2 separate regions of the Homo sapiens genome follow, and region 2 is linked to region 1. The links come from fine-mapping of genetic effects on gene expression. A gene starts in region 1. The other region holds a variant in brackets. All regions are shown on one strand. Distances are between the middles of the regions. Region 1 holds the start of SASH3 (SAM and SH3 domain containing 3). Region 2 overlaps XPNPEP2 (X-prolyl aminopeptidase 2).

The links. PIP is the estimated chance that this variant, and not a neighbour inherited with it, causes the effect.
Region 2: its variant is the best candidate, but not a certain one, in a credible set for the expression of SASH3 in whole blood (GTEx, PIP 0.67).

The regions. Positions count from the first base shown.
Region 1 is chrX:129,776,934-129,782,304 of GRCh38, reverse strand. It overlaps SASH3 (SAM and SH3 domain containing 3), which reads right to left and starts at 2,356. Exons shown (of 8, transcript NM_018990.4): 1 at 2,151-2,356. The coding sequence starts at 2,207. LOC124905215 (a long non-coding RNA gene) reads left to right here. Exons shown (of 2, transcript XR_007068328.1): 2 at 2,026-3,730. RefSeq lists enhancers at 399-448, 559-738, 2,006-2,065, 2,116-2,195, 2,446-2,605.
Region 2 is chrX:129,748,646-129,754,016 of GRCh38, reverse strand. XPNPEP2 (X-prolyl aminopeptidase 2) reads right to left here. Exons shown (of 21, transcript NM_003399.6): 8 at 3,448-3,549; 9 at 2,191-2,272; 10 at 1,672-1,867; 11 at 769-858. Among named protein-coding and RNA genes, the nearest start is that of XPNPEP2, 12 kb to the right of the region's middle. The variant T/C (reference allele first, on the strand shown) is at 2,864.

The DNA of each region.
Region 1 (5,371 bases):
CCCCCTTGTGTGGTATGCACGTGCACACTTGTGACAGGGTACTCTCACATCTATTCTTTTGGGTGATCTGTACAACCTCTTGAGGGGGGCAGATTAGGAGTTATCCTCCTTTTCAGAGGCGAGGAAACTGAGGCCCAAAGAAAGTCAATGAGCTGTCCAAGGTCCTACAGCTAGAGCGTGGTAGGATTCCAGCTCAGCTTTCTTGCCCCCTGTCTGGCACATTCTCCATTGGCAGGCCCAAGAGGAGAAGCAGGGGCAGGAGAAAGAGGCCTCTCTTGCCTTTGTGCTTTCCTCTCCACCACGTCATCTCAGCCTCTGAGAAGAAGGGACTAGCAGTGATTCAGCCAGCCCGCTGCCTCTGGGCCTGGGGAAGATGCTCTGTACCTTCTGGAAGCTTGGCTTCTGGGGGACATTTCCATAGTCTGGGGCTAGCAGAGTGTGTGGAGGCAAGCTCATCCCAGCTCTGGAGGCTGGCACCGGCTCTGGCAGGGGTTGGGGTGGGGTTTGCCTGGACTACTCTCCCCGAAAGGACCCCTTCTCCTGGGAGAGACCTGGGGAAATCCCAGGGGCCCACTTGCCTGCCGAACACAGAATCTGGGTAATTGAAGCTGGGAAAGAAAAAGGGGACTTCTGGCTTCTGTGTGCCCCTAGGTACGTCTTCCTGATGTGGCACAGGGTCCCAGTGTCAAAGTGTCAGCTCTTTCTCACACTTTCCTCCAGCTCAGCGCCCCTGTGGTTTGAGGCCTAGCAGTGTCTATAGAGCAATCTCTGTTTCCCACCCCCACCAGCCAGAGAGCAAGGGGAAGTGGCCCTGCTCTCTTAGGAGTGGCAGCCAATGGCAGTCCTGCTGGGCCTAGCACCCTGCAGGGTTTGGACGGGGATGACAGAGCCCGTGTGAAGATTCATGAACCTCCCCCCTCCCCCGCCCACCACCACTGCAACCTTAGAGAAGCAGCTGGGGTGGGGAGAATACAGCCGGAAGTGGCAGCCACCCCAGGACCTGAGAGCTGGGGCAGGATGCACACCCCACTGCCCCGAGTCTCAGTCTTTCAGCTGCCTTGGCCTCCATCTCTGAGCTACTCCCCTGACAAGGGGGATCCACCATAGGGCACCTGGGCTGAGTTCCAGGGAAAATTGGCGGGGGATAGCCTGGGCCTCTTGGACCTAGTTCAGGCCTGCTTTGGGACTGTCCTAGCATCCCATTGGATGTGTAGGATATACTTGCTGATTGTCTGGGAGAATCCTTCAATTGAATTAAAGAATTAGGTCTAGAAATCCTCAAACCCAACCAAAGAAATCTGGAAATCCTCAAATTCAACCACAAAATCCTAGATCTGGCACAGCCTTCAAGGATTCTTCCAGTCCGGTCTCTGCCCCAGGGGGATGAACACCTCAGCCATCCATGACAGCTGTTTTTCCTCCTGGCCTTTAAAATCCTCCCTCCTCAGCCTTCACTCCTACTCACCACCTCAACTTAATTTCTCATTCCCCACCCAGGAAGAACCTGTATGCCCCCTGCATCCCACTGCACTTCCGGATGCCTTTTCCCCCAAGACTGGAATGGCCTCAGGCCCCCATCTCCAGGTTGGCTCCATCTCGGGTAGGGCCTGGGAGCTACCACAGAGCTGAGCCAAGTGGGCAGGGTCTGGGCCATGGCCAAAGTGGAGGAGGGGGTGGCAGTCCTGTGAGCATCATGGCTCCAAGCTGGGCAGCCCAGCAGGGCCCTTTGAGTGAGATGGCTCCTGAGAGGCCGTGGCCGGGGCAGAAGTGGCAGCAGGACCAGCGTAGAGGAGAGATAGTTAAGTACAAGCTTAGGGTTCAGCTTAAGCATTGTATTTTGTTATTCTCAAATTCTAGTCTAAGATTCTGGCCCCTAATTTTAGATCTTTTTTCCCATTCTTCTAGGGTTGAATTGCATGACTCTAGATTTCTAAGGATCTATTCTGTAACTCTGTTGCTCCAGAATTTTAAACATCTCTTCTGTACTTCTGTTAACCTTTGGGTCCCTGTCCCGTTGCCTTCTAGGTGAGTGGCCCTCACCTACAGACTCAACATATGGCCTTTGGCTCTTCCCACTTCCAAGAGTCTTGGAAGGGATGGGTCGAGCAAGCAGAGGAAAGGAAGATGTGAGTTCCCAAAATGCTCCTCACCTTTTTCTTCTGAGTGGGCTCCTTCTCACTGGCATTGGAGGGCTTGCGGCGCAGCATGGTCCTCCACCCTGGGAGACTCCGTCCCTGCTCTCCTAGGTGTCAAGATGCAGAGGCCTCTTGCTTAGCCTCACCAGAACTGCCCGGGGGCACGGCATGAACCGAGCCTTCAGCTGCCACTCTGACTGCTGCAGTGGCAGCTTGGGGGTGCGGGCCATGGACACCCGGCAGCAGCAGCATACAGGAAGCCCTGCCACGTGACCTACTCTTACAGCAATCGCAGCCCCTGCCGGCCCCTAGGGAGGAAGGAAGTCCAAGCTTCAGTCTCCAGAGATTCTGATGCAGACGGCTCTTGGGTTGAACAGTCAGAGAAAGTCCCTACCTTGTTGTCTCATGTCGATCATCATCAGTCCTTCTGCTCCATCTTCCTAGAGGTGGACAATCAGCTCGACATTATATGGCGTACCCAAGCCCTTTATCTCACTGACCAGAATCCAGAAACCAGAAGTTGGACCATCTGGCTGCCTGTTGGATCAATGCTCCCGGTCAACTCACGTCTTCAAGGTCGTCACTGCCATCACTACCACTACCATCACCCCTGTGACCATCACCACTGCTACCATCACTCCTATCAATAGCCATCACCATACAGCCATCACCCCTACAGCCATCAGGCCTGCAGCCATCCCCGCTGCCATCAGCACACCTATAGCCATTGTCACTATGGTAATCACCTCTACAGTTGACATCCTTCAGCCATCACCTCTACAGTCATCACCATTGCTGCTATCACCCTTCCAGCCATCATCCTTACAGCTGTCACCCTTCTGGACATTACAGCCAACCGCACTCATGACCCTCTCACCCCTATAACCATCGTCCCTACAGTCATCTCTCCTACAACCATCATCACATCCGTGCAGCCATCAGCCCTGCAGCCATCACTCCTACAGCCATCAGTACACCTAAAGCCATCATCACTAGAGCAGTCACCCCTCCAGTCAGTACCCCTCAGCCATCATGAGTATATTTATCACCACCACAGCTGAAAAGCACTTACAGCCAACTCCACACCTCTAGCAAGTATCCAACAGGCATTTATCAAACACCTATGCAGTATATTCAATTTGTGGGTTGTCTGTGGCAGATTTTAATAACTTTAATAACTTCTTGGTATTACAAAAGCAACTTGTATTTGTCATACAATTTCACAAACACATAAACAAAAAAAATTTCAAAATTTCCCATCATTGTCCTCTACACTGTTTTAAGCATCTATCTACTCTCTGTCTATAAACATTTTTTTTCTTTTTACAAAAATCATACTGCTCAGAAAACAGATAATTGGTTTGGGGAGAAGGGGAGGGGAGAGAAGGGAAGGGAGACATCACACAGGGTAACAGGAAGCTTTTAGGAGTGATGAATATGTTCACTATCTTGACTGTGGTGATGATTTCATGGGGGAATACACATGTCAAAACGTATCAAATTGTATACTTCAAATATGTGCAGTTTATTGTAGCTCCATTATACCTCAATAAAGCTGTTTAAAATTTTTTAATTAAAAAAGGTCATAATTCACACTATTGGTGTCTGCTTTTCACACTAAACACAGTATCTTTTTTGTTTTTTTTTCGAGATGGAGTCTCTCACTCTGTCTCCCAGGCTGGAGTGCAGTGGCGTGATCTCGGCTCACTGCAACCTCCACCTCCTGAGTTCAAGCAATTCTTGTGCCTCTGCCTCCCAAGTAGCTGGGACTATAGGTGCGTACCACCACCCTGGTTAATTTTTGTATTTTTTGTAGAGACAGGGTTTCACCATGTTGCCCAGGCTGGTCTTGAACTCCTGGTCTCAAGTGACCTCTTTGCCTCATCCTCCCAAAGTGCTGGGATTACAGGCGTGAGCCACTACGTCCAGCTGAACACAGTATCAAGATTGTCTCATGCTATGAAATAGTCTTCAACTACGTAATTTATAACGGCTGTGGAACATCCCATTGTGTGGATGTGCCGTGCTTATTTCACCAAGCCCTTGCTGATGAACTTGGGTTGGCTTAAATTTTTAAATTATTCATTGAACATACTTATGGTAAATATTCACATCCATAGTTTTTTTTCTGTAGGGGAAATATCCAGAAGAGGAATTGCTGGGGTCAAAGGTATGCACATTTTTAAGGCTTTCAATTCTGTGGTACTTGTGAAATACTAGGCTTGTCCACCCCTGTTCCCAAGATGTTCTCGTGACTTCCTCTCCGATTCTGCTTTATGCCCTCTGACCATCCAACCTTCAGGGTGAGCTCAGGGAAGATAAGATCTTTCTTCCCTAAGCTGAAACCATACATTCTTTGGCCTACTCAGTCGGCCAGGCAGACTCATGAAAAGATTCCACACCCCAGATCTCCTTCCCACTGGCCTGTGTTTTCCACCCTGAAAGTCCCTCCCAGGCGGCCCAGGGTCACTAGCAAGCGCGGTAACTGGTTAAGGCTTTTCGGCATATACAGTAGCCTGGCAGCCGTGTAGGGGACCCATCGGGCCTTTGGGGCTCTGCGTGACCAGGAGCAGGAGGGCAGCCCCAGAGGGTTCTGGGATTGGGGACGCCGCTGTAGTGGCCTGGGGCACCTGGAGCCAGAGCCGTGAGGGAGGAAGCAGGTCGCAGAATCTTCCGGGCCTGCGCAGCGGCTGCGTCCCTGGCCGCCTCGCAGGATGTGCCCGCTTCCTGTTTGCTCAGCGCCGGCAGCGACAGAAGATCACACACTAACCGCAGAACCTTCAAAGGCGGCCAGCAAACCAGGGCACAGGGCTGGCGAGGCTTGGGAAAAGGCAGCGAGAGGGAGGTGAGGGTGCCTTGGAGAGAAATATGGAGAGGTGACCAGCTCCCAGGACAGAAGGGAGCAAGTGTTTTCAACGGCTTCCTTCGTTCTCCTTTTCAGATCTGTCTCCTCTGTTCAGGAACACCTCCTCCCCGCCACCTGGGGACCGGGGCCAGTGGAGGCGGGGTGTCCAGGACCCCCCATCGGGACTTGCCTTCCCCCAGCTTTTCTCTTCCAACAGATTGCCCTGGCTGAATCCCAATAGGCCAGGTCCTTGCTGGCTAATGACCCTTAAACATGTGTTTAATAGATTTTCCCTTCTGGGTAACATATTTGCATTTTACAGGTTATGTTGTTTGAGGTACGCAGAGCTCTCAGCTAAGGAAGTGATACGAGTCAGTAGTTCAGGGAACAA
Region 2 (5,371 bases), 28 kb after region 1:
AAAATTGAGCCATCCTCTTGCCAGTGTGAGGAAATCATTATAGCTAACACTTATTTAACACTTAGAATGTGCTAGGTGGTGCTCAGAGCAATATACATATTCATTGAATTCTCACAACAACCATATGCTGTAAGATTACTGTTATGATCCTCATTTTACAGATGGGGTAACTGAGGCCCAGAGAGGTAAAATGACTTGGTCAAGGTCACCCAGTTAGGAATTGGGTGGAGCTGTGGTTTGAACTCAAGGCACCCTAGCTCCAGGGCCTGTGCTCTAAACCACTGTACTATATTGGGGGCAAGGATATGAGGTGCATGTGGGCGCCCAGGAATAATTTGGTGTCTGCTTCTTTATTTCTTTTTCTTTCTTTCTTTCTTTTTTTTTGACCTAGTCTCGCCCAGGCTGGAGTGCAGTGGCATGATCTCAGCTCATTGCAACCTCTACTTCCCAGGTTCAAGCGATTCTCGTGCCTCAGCCTCCTGAGTAGCTGGGACTACAGGTGATCGCCACCACGCCTGGCTAATTTTTGTATTTTTAGTAGAGACAGGGCTTCACCATGTTGGCCAGGCTGCTCTCGGACTCCTGAGCTCAAGCAATCCTCTCACCTTGGCCTCCCAAAGTGCTAGGATTACAGGCGTGAGCCACCGCGCCCAGCTTGCTTCTTTGTTTCATTGAGGGTCTTCTTCAGGCTCTTCTGGAGGCCTTTCCTTTCTAACTCATTAGGCTGGATACTCCCAAAAGGCCATGTCTGCCTGAACGTGGACTTACGTGGCTGGCCTTGAGGAGGGCCTGCTCCTTGCTGTTCTTCACTGCCTTGGTCATCATCACTGGGGAGTAGGTGTCTGTCACGAGTTTCTCCTGTTGGGGGCAGGGAGGAGAAAAGGAGGTCTGGGGGCACAGGTCTGGGGGCACAGTAAAGGAGGTCTCCATGGCACAGGGGTGTTTTCAGAGGACTGGCAGGAGGACCCAGCAGACGTGAGATTTGCCACCATTTCGTGGCAATGCTCTCTACTCTGTGTGTGCTTTCTGTCTTTCCTAGTTTTCCACGTCCAGCTGAACCCTCTCTCCTTCCAGGAAGGCTTCCTTGATTGACACTGCCTTGCTTGGCAATGAACTCCCTGTCTTCGGATCCCACCAGCACTCTGGGATGGATCAGAGTCTGGCCTGAGTCACTCGACAGGCTGTCCTGACAGTGTAAGTTTCCTGTACATATCATGACAGCTACCATTTATTGGACACTACCATGTGTCAGTCATATACACTATCTCCTTTAGATCTCCACTGAGCGACTCCTGCGAGGTCAGGACTCTTATTGCCATTTTATAGGTGAAGAAAAAGACCCAGATTGGCTAAGTTGCTTGTCCAAAGTCACTGCACAGCTAGTTAGGGACAGAGCTGGAATTCATTTTCAAGTTTGGCTGACTCCAAAGTCTCTGCTAGATCAGGCCGTATACTCTCCAGCCTCCTGACAATTTTATGAGCTCTCTGGATGGCCATCCCTGTTTCCTCTTCTGGCTCTTCCCAGTTAGGCCAAGAAGGGAACTCACTGCACAGTTGTTGGCTGACCAGATGACTGAATGGCTGAGGGGCTTCACCTCACTTTAGGTTAAGACTTCTCAGGCCTAGAGTGGGGATTGGTGCCTGGCTTGGGCTGGGGCCTGGCAAACCCACCTTGGGTATCATTTCATAGATCCCATACATGGTATAGCTGGTCCCAATCCAGATCCTCACATCTCCCAATGAGTAGGCCTGGATGCTGTCACGAACTTGGCTGTAATCCTCGATTTGCACACACATGGGGCCTGTGCAACTGGAGTTCAGATAGCTCAAGGTTTCGGAGCTAAAGCGACTCTTGTTTGCAAACAACCTGGGTGGGGTGGGAAGACAAGGAGGGTCCTGAGCATCTGCTAAGGATGCAAAGGACCAGAGGCAGTCACAGTCCCTCTGTTCCTGGAGGTCAAAGGAAGCCAGCCCCAGGGAGCCAAGCAGGCCAGATTTGGGATTCAATAGGGACAGAGGTTTAAAGAGTCAGGAAAAGACAACAGGGGGTTTTCTAAAGGGTCGTGCTGCAGCAGGCGCCGAGCTGATGGGCAGCCAGAGGGCTGTATATTAAGGCGGGATCAGTGGTGGGGCATCAAGAGGGTGGAAGTTGGAGAAAGTCCACAACAGCAAGCTAAGGAAAAGCCATACCTAATAGAAGAGTCTGTGAGCAGCGTGTAGGAATAGAAGAAGGGGTTATAGGGGATGTCACTGGCTCGAAGGTTGAAGAGCCCTGGGAAGAGAATTGACAAGGAATATTTAATGCTGATCTGCCTGAGGCAAGCTTTTCTTTTCCTCTTTTTTTCCTTTCCTTCCTTCCTTCTTTCCTTCCTCCCTTCCTTCCTTCCTTCCTTCCTTCCTTCCTTCCTTCCTTCCTTCCTTTCTTTCTTTCTTTCTTTCTTTCTTTCTTTCTTTCTTTCTTTCTTTCTTTCTTTCTTTCTTCCTTTCTTTCTTTTTCTTTCTTTTCTTTCTTTTTTGACAGTATCTTGCTCTGTCACCCAGGCTGGAGTGCAGTGGCAAGATCTCACTGCAATCTCCACCTCGCAGGTTCAAGCAAGTCTCCTGCCTCAGCCTCCCAGGTAGCTGGGTTTGCAGATGCCTGCCACCATGCCCAGCTAATTTTTGTATTTTTAGTAGAGACGGCGTTTCAACATGTTGGTCAGGCTGGTCTTGAACTCCTGACTTCAGGTGATCCGCCCACCTTGGCCTCCCAAAGTGCTGGGATTACAGGCGTGAGTCACCGCACCCGGCCAGAGGCAAGCATTTCTGACACTTTTGCCCCACTGTTTCCTTTGGCCTCCAAAGATTACCAACAGCATGCTTG[T/C]ATCATCTACCTCTGCATGTTACTCAATCTTTTTGCCGGGGGGGGGGGGTGGGGGAGTGGGCGTCTTTGAGATGCTGTTGAGAGTTATGGATCTTTTCCCCCCAGAAAAATGCAGATACTTAGCAGTCAGCACACAGTTCCAGTGGGTCCCTGGAATATCTGAAGCCCAGCCATAGGGATCAGACAAGAAGTCCTGAGCCATGTCGGAAAGAGTAGAGTCCCACTGGGTGCTAAAGCTGGGAGTGTGAGTGCCCTGGGGTAGTGGCTAAGTTGTTGGGAGGCATTTCCTGGTCCTCCTCCCCTTAGTGGGACAGAAGCACTTTGCTGCCATAGTCAGTTCGTTCCTCTGGTGGCCTGTGGGCTGGTCCCAGCTTGCTCAGGGCTACCTTTTGTCCTTTTTCTGAAGCCATGAGCTCCTGCCCCCTTACCCTTCTTGGTTCCCACGGGCTGTGGCCATGGAGTTCTCAAGAATTGGTGGGCACATGGTTATTTGGGGAAGAGCTAGCTCTGTGCTGCAGGGCCCGGGAGGCTTGGGGCATTGGGGAGACCCAGGCGCCCACCCATGTCTGCAAATCCACACTCACAGGCCGTCTCCTCAAGCGCCGACAGAAGGACGGCAGTCGGGACCTTTTGATGCTTCTGCATCTGGCTTCGGACGCCAGATACTTTCTCCTGCCAAGTGCTCCCTAGAAGCAAAGGAGCCCCAAAAAAGTGTAAGTGACAGACCTTGCCTTTGGCACTCGGTTCCTGGAAGGTCAGCCTTAGGGTAACAGTTTTGCATCCTCTTAAAAAGCAGCGAAACCCTTTCCTCAAACAAACTCTTACTTGTGTACTCATTAATGACATGGGCCCTGGACCCAGATGGGGCTCAAATCCTGGCTTTGCCATTACTGGATGGGTGACCTTGGGCAAATTACCTAACCCCTCTGTGTTCCATTTTGCACATTTGTAAAATGGGGATGGAGTATAATAAGCATCTGCCTCAATAGGGCTGCTATGAGGATGGAATGAATTAATATTTGTAAAGCACACAGAATGGTATCTTGAGATGTAGTAACTCTTGTATCTTTCTGATTAATAAATAATCATGCAGACTGAGATCAAGAGAGCAGTCCTAGTTGAAGGACAAAGGGGTAGGGCTGGGGCCGTGTTCAACTTTCTCTGCAGTAACCCCAGTATTTACTAAGCCACGGGTACTGGGCTAAGCACTCCATGTGCATTGTTCTAATTCTTACCCATCCCATTTTACAGATAAGGAAACTGAGGCTTCAGAGAGGTAAAGTGACTTGTCTAGGGTTTCATGGATGCAAGAGGTAGAGCTGGGATTTGAACTCTGGTCTGTCTGACTGCATGGCCCACGCTCTTAATCTGTACAGACACCGTACTGTCTTGATAACATTCTCAGTCTCCAAATCTGTCCTTAAACTCTGTGTCACAGCACCGTCCTTTCTCAGATGCTTATATCTGGGTTCTATGACTTTAGTTTTCATCTTCTATCCCTGCCCCCTGCAAGATATTCAAAGAGTCTACCCCTAGGCAGGACTAGGAGTTTGCTGGCCGAAGGCCATAAACATTAAGGGTCCTAGTTGGGTTCAGATATGAGCATAAATAACTTAATGTCGTGAAAAATATTTCATGTGAACAGGTAAAACTATTCAACAATGACCAAAGCTTTGGGTACAATACATTTTTGTAGGTTTATTTTACTACATATTTTACACATAATTTATGTTATGTGTATTTTACACATAACATAAAACATATCATTTTAATCTTTTTAAAGTGCACAATTCAGTGGCTTTCAGCATACTCACAATGTTGTGCAACCATCGCCACGATCTAATTCTAGAACATTTTCTTCATCCCCAAAGGAAACCCTGTACTCACTAAGGAGTCACTCCCTATCCCCCCTCCCCTGAGCCCCAGGAAATCCCTAATCTATTTTCTGTCTCTATGGATTTGCCAGTGCTGGATATTTCATACAAATGGAATTGTACAATATGTGGCCTTCTCTGACTGGCTTCTTTCACTTGCAATTATGTTTTCAAGGTTCAGGAATATGATACCTTTCTGAGAAACCAAATGAACCCAAATTTCAATGGTCTGGTGCGTACAGGTATGTTTGAGTAGCGAACTTTTCATGTTCTGCCCTTTGCACTCTCCTTTCTCCTTTAAAATCTGCAAGTGGCTGGAAAGTCTCTCTCGTCTTTATAAGCTTATTGAAGCTGAACTCTGTTCTTCGGCTTCCAAACTCAAGCTCCAGGTGCCTTTTTCTTGAAGACTGGCAGCGGGTGATGACTCGGCATCCCCTCACTTTTGGGAAGTGACAAAACCCTTCCAGCCCCAGGAAGGTTTTTCTTTTTTCCCTTCCCCTTCCCGACATAACTTTGACTTTCTTTATCTGAATAAGATGAGTTTTATTTATGATTTAACAGTCTTGGATAACAAATTTCTTTAAAAATGGTGTCAAGATGCAGAAAGAATGATTCTGGAAGTTACATCAGAACA